Regions from separate parts of the Homo sapiens genome. Here region 1 is linked to region 2. Evidence: fine-mapped expression QTL. Tissue or cell type: breast. Region 2 holds a variant in brackets; the other region holds the start of a gene. All regions are shown on one strand. Distances are from middle to middle.

Region 1 (2,773 bases), 770 kb after region 2:
CTTTTTATATGAGGAATTCTTTTAGTCTTTAATAATTTTATGTTATTCTTCAGTCTCTCAATTCAACAAATACAACTAGAGAGAACTGGTAAAATCAATAAATCCCATCTACTAATTAAAAGAGAACATAAGAGAATCAGTAGGTAATGAAACACTGTAAGAGTGCTAACCGTGGAAAGAGACAAATTTTTAAACATACCAATAAGCTCTCTCTTTTCATCCTCCATTTCTTAAGAAAATTCTTGCACAGAAGTGCTTTGGTTTGCTGATACACGCTTTTCTGTTTCATATTCATTTAGCCTATTCGCTGAAGGAGAAAGTAATCATGGTGGAACACAACCTAGAAAAAAATAAGTGTAATAAGAAAAACCTTGATCATAGTGTTGAGGAAAATATTTACTACCTTTAAAAAGTGTAAACATGAATTTAAAATATTATTTCAATAATTTATGACTGTAAAATTTCACCTCAAATATTTCACCTTAAGCTTTTTAGGGGAGTGGGTGATGGTGGGAAGGCAGAGTGATTATTATCACAATTTTGCAATAACTTGGAGTACTGAAATGGAAAAGCTGTAATTCAACTTCAGAACCTATAATTTCACATTTTTGGCCTTGTATGAGAGAACTTTAAGTACATGAATAGAGTGATTAAATTAATTTCATCCTGTTAATAGCCATTTCTTGTTCTTTACATTGAAACAGAAATCTCAGAGCTAATCAAATTAACATCAAAAGTCTGATTACTTAAATTTGTCTGAATAATAAATTACATCCACTAGATACAACCTCAATAAAGTGTTTTCTTGTAATTTTACCTTCAGATTGAATCAACTTTTATGAAAAGAGATAGGTTGTAAATCATAATCCAGGCTCAAACTACTTGAAACTTGATTCTGAGATACAGGAAGAATAAAGCAATTTCTCTCAATTTTCTGAATTCAGAAGTCCCTGAATAACTAATGAAACTACAAAATTAGCTTTAAAAGAAGCAAAAATAAATCACACGGGAAAGTAATTTTGCCCAAAGATTTGCAAATCAAGAAACACAATTTTTTTCGTTTCTGTAACCTCAAAATGAAATTCTTTCATATTTTTACATCAAAATATTCAGATAATTCTCCCTCAGCTAGCACAGAAGCAAATTTTTTCCATTTTTCTATGTCTTACTGTTACAATCTACACAATAAAAAGTGGTTGGGAAAAAGCAGAAAAATTTAGTCTTAGGTCTTTAACATAAAACACATAAGAATTGGGAAACATCTGAAAAATAGATTGATTTTAGCAGTGTCCACCCACATATTTGGCACAGCACAACAAAATAGAGCTTTACTTACTGTCAGGAAAATAATAAAAAGCACTCTAGAAACACTGTCAAAACCAGTTCTCTGTTTGTCTAGGTAACGATTACAACTTCTTTATTGCTGCTTCTTCATTTTTTCTTTAAATGGGTGCCTACTCCAGCAGCTCTTACACAGCCTGGTTTCTGAAAAGGGGTGTAGCCAGACCAAGCTGTACATGATGAACTTGTTTTGTTTTCTGTGTCTCTTTCTCCCTAAGCCAATTATTCTGCAAGGAAATGACTGTTCCGTGGTTGGTTGGGAATAAAATAAACTCTGTGTTTGTTCACTTAGCCTTTCAACTACAGGGATAAGGGGGAAAACGGTAAACAAGGAAAATGGAACTAGTTCTTCAGAAATGATGAGACCAAGATGGAGGCAGGAACAAGAAAGAGTAAAAACAATAACTAACCAAACAAAGCAGTTAAATTTGTATAAGAAATCTGTATCTATTTTCTTTTCACTACTGATGAATAAACACAACTGCCAGTTAGTTGTATATTTAACTAATTCAGACTAAGTTAGCAGAGTATTCTGGAGCTGATTTTTTTTCCTAATAAAGCTAAGCAATCCATAGTACGCCTTGGAGAAACTCCTAGGACAGACAAATGAAGAATTTTTAACAAATTTGTTGCTCCCACCCTCTTCACAGTGGATACAGGATTTCATAATACTTATGAACAAAATAAGCCAGTGGTTTGCCCAGGTCTACAAAACATATAAAAAGATTCAGATAAATTTTTGTGCACGAAGACTACAACAAACTGAAACATGTTTAATTCATATAGCATAGTCTGTCTCTCTCTGCTCTGTAAAGAGTTGCAAACTTTTCTTGACCTGCCACAGTGAATGGCAAAACAGGAAATCAAAGTCCATGAATTGGGAAATCTCAAATATTTGACACGGCTCCCAATCCACAGATGTTAATAATCATAAAGCTGAGAAACTTTCTGGAGCAAAGCAGATAATTTAAACAACAATGACAACTACAGCCATGATACTATTATGTGTATATGTGTGTGCCTGTGTGTATATATATAAAATGTATATATATATAATGTATACATATGTGTATATATATAATGTGTGTGTGTGTGTGTGTGTGTGTATATATATATATATAAAATTTCTCTCCTTGGCAATTACTTCTGTTTTTAAAAATAGTCAACAGTGAAATGCCACTTTTTTTACATTGAAAATTGGCACAAACACCGTTAATAAAGGTGTTCTAAAGTTCTCATGGGGTGTGGGAAGGGAGGTCATAAACACTTAACATTTTGTAATAGTAATATAACAAAACTCAAAGTTACTTTTAAACCACCTGGAATACAGTTAAGGCTTTTATGAATTTTTTTGTTGTTATCATTGTTTTAGACCCTTTATACTTTATTTTAGGAATCATTTTCATTCTGCCATTCTTATAATTGTATTAAA
Region 2 (2,773 bases):
CTGCAGTCTGTAGCATTTGCCAATTCCTGAGGTGTAAATACTCAATCTCACCATGGCTGATTTCCAGCTATGGAGATGTCACCGAATATGGCATTGAAAAATGATGGGCAGTAGCAAGCCATTGTGTGTTATTTCCACCACACAGATACAATAGATGTAAATAACCCCATGAGCCTACATCATAGCAGAATGTAGTAGTTGGGAAGTGATAAATGGTGAGAATGTACTACTTTCAAAAAATATTATTGATTTATTTAATTTATTTTTTTTTTGAGACAGAGTCTCGCTCTGTCGCCCAGGCTGGAGTGCAGTGCACAATCTTGGCTCACTGCAACCTCTGCCTCCTGGTTTCAAGTGGTTCTCCCTGCCTCAGCCTCCCGAGTAGCTGGGATTACAGGCACCTGCCACCACGCCTGGCTAATTTTTGTATTTGTTAGTAGAGGCAGGGTTTTGCCATCTTGGCCCAGCTGGTCTCAAACTCCTGACCTCAAATGATCCGCCTGCCTCGGCCTCCCAAAGTGCTGGGATTACAGGTGTGAGCCACTACGCCTGGCAAAAAAATAAAATAAAATAAAATTTATTTAATTGTGGACTTTTATAATTGAATTTTTAGCAATGGCCATGTTTAACAACTGGTTTGCAAAATACTTGAAATTTGAGCCAGATCTAGGCACCACTGCAATATGGAATCTACCTGAAAATTAAAAAAAGCCACCCCCACTGGCCAGGCACTGCCCTGTGCAGGGTAACCAGCCAGTAGATTGTAAGCTGGAAATAAGGACCCATTCACTCAGCAGGATGTCCTGATGCAGGCCACAACCTGCACAACTGTACATGACCATCCCTGGGAGAGTTGGCATCAGGCACTGCAAATCATTGCTGTACGAAAAAACTAGGCAAGAATGGAGATGTTTTCTATCTGCACTGTCCAAGCTGCTAGCCTCTAGCCACCTGCTGCTGCTGAGCATTTGAAATGTGGCTAGGAATTTATGTATGTGTGTGTGTGTGTGTGTGTGTGTGTGTATTTTATTGTGGGTATGTATATATACAGATATATATAATCATAAAATGTTACCATCTTAACCATTTTAAATGTAAAGTTCTGTCGCATTAAACATTCACTTTGTTTTGCAACAATTACCACTATCCATCTTCAGAACTGTTTCATTTTTTCTAACTGAAACTGTACCCATGAAACATAAACTGCCCAGTTTTTCTTCCCCGCAGTGCCCCGCCACTCACCATCCTACCTTCTCTCTATGAATTTGACTATTATGGGTACCTCACACAAGTGGAATCATACAATTATTTGTTTCTTGGTGACTGGATTATTTCACTTAGCATAATATTTTCCGGGTCCACCCATGTGCTAGCGTGTGGGCCATGGAACTTTTAATATGATTTAATTTTCATTAATTTAAATCTAAATAGGTACATGTGACTTGTGGCTGCTGCCCTGAACAACACAACTCTAGCAATGTTGCAGAGAAAGTGTGGATTAAAATGGGGAAGGCAGA[C/T]GCCCCTGTCTTGGGACTTGTGTCCAGGGTTTTATGCATAGCAAAGAGAACTGAGTGCAAGCACAGTCCCAGGCGGCAGACCCTGGGAGCCAGGGTGCAGGGGGGATTTGAGGGCACAGTTGGCTATAGAGCAAGGCTGTAAGGTGGTGTAAACCAGGGTGAGCTAAGGAGAACCCTGGGGCCAACTGAATCTCTGCGTGAACTAGTATGAAAGGGCCATGCATCTACCCCCACCAGAATGTTGTTGACTCTGTACTCTCCCAATACCCTTGTTTGGTGTCCTCTGAAAGACCCCCCATGGATGGATCTGTGGGAGAGGGGCCCCCTGAAGGTCCCTGCCACCGTTGTGATTCTGCAGCTGCTCTTGGCTGGGAGTAGGACTGGGACCTTTGCTTGGAAGCCACGCCAGCTCCCTCCAAGCCTTTCATTCTGCACTTTCCAGGGAAATCAGGATGAGTACAGAGGCAGCCGAACAACAAGGCCTCTGACAGATCCCTGATCTAGATGTTACCTGGTGGTCATATGTGTCCTTGAAATTCCTGTGATCAACTTGAGACAACCATTTATCTCTTAGAAAGGAACAAGGCTGGCCAGGCACAGTGGCTCACGCCTGTAATCCCAGCACTTTGGGAGGCCGAGGAGGGCAGCTCACCCGAGGTCAGGAGTTTGAGGCCAACCTAGCCAACGTAGCAAAACCCCATCTCTACTAAAAATACAAAATTAGACGGGCATGGGGGTGGGCACCTGTAATTCCAGCTACTCAGGAGGCTGAGGCGGGAGTATCGCTTGAACCCAGGAGGCGGAAGTTGCAGTGTGACAATATCGCGCCACTGCACTCCAGCCTGGGCGACAAGAGTGCGACTCTGTCTCCAAAAAAAAGAAAGAAAGGAATGAGAGGCTGAGAATGGACAGGATAGTCTGGATGCTGCAAAATAAAATTTAAAGGTGTGTGTGTGTGCCTTAGACTTTACAGTGTGGCAGTTAAGAGCAAGATTCGGACATGTAACTAATTGCATATCCTGGGCAAGTCCTTTAATCTCTAAGCTTCTGATTCTTCATCTGAAAAACGGGGCTATGATGAGGACGAACCTAGACAATGTGATTCCCATATAATAAGCTCTCAGTAAATGATAAGGGATAGTAACTGTTATTACAATTCTCATTTTTAATTGGCTAACCAGATTGCTTTCACATTTCCTTGGAAGATTCTGGATAAATGTGTCCTTCTTGAGCCCGTGGGGCAGAAGGAGCTTTGG

Direction of the effects. Positions count from the first base shown, and alleles are read on the strand shown. Sizes are in standard deviations (SD) of each study's normalised expression.
With allele T in place of C in region 2, the expression in breast of the gene that starts at base 1,487 in region 1 is lower (moderate effect, 0.43 SD a copy in GTEx).

What was found. PIP is the estimated chance that this variant, and not a neighbour inherited with it, causes the effect. A credible set is the group of variants that fine-mapping cannot tell apart.
Region 1: it holds the start of ABCA6, and the variant in region 2 is the best candidate, but not a certain one, in a credible set for the expression of ABCA6 in breast (GTEx, PIP 0.89).

Annotation. Positions count from the first base shown.
Region 1 is chr17:69,140,409-69,143,181 of GRCh38, forward strand. It overlaps ABCA6 (ATP binding cassette subfamily A member 6), which reads right to left and starts at 1,487. Exons shown (of 39, transcript NM_080284.3): 1 at 1,337-1,487; 2 at 200-340. The coding sequence starts at 295. RefSeq lists a silencer at 1,380-1,674.
Region 2 is chr17:68,365,684-68,368,456 of GRCh38, forward strand. The region is part of intron 6 of ARSG (arylsulfatase G); the gene reads left to right. Among named protein-coding and RNA genes, the nearest start is that of MIR635, 57 kb to the right of the region's middle. The variant C/T (reference allele first, on the strand shown) is at 1,518.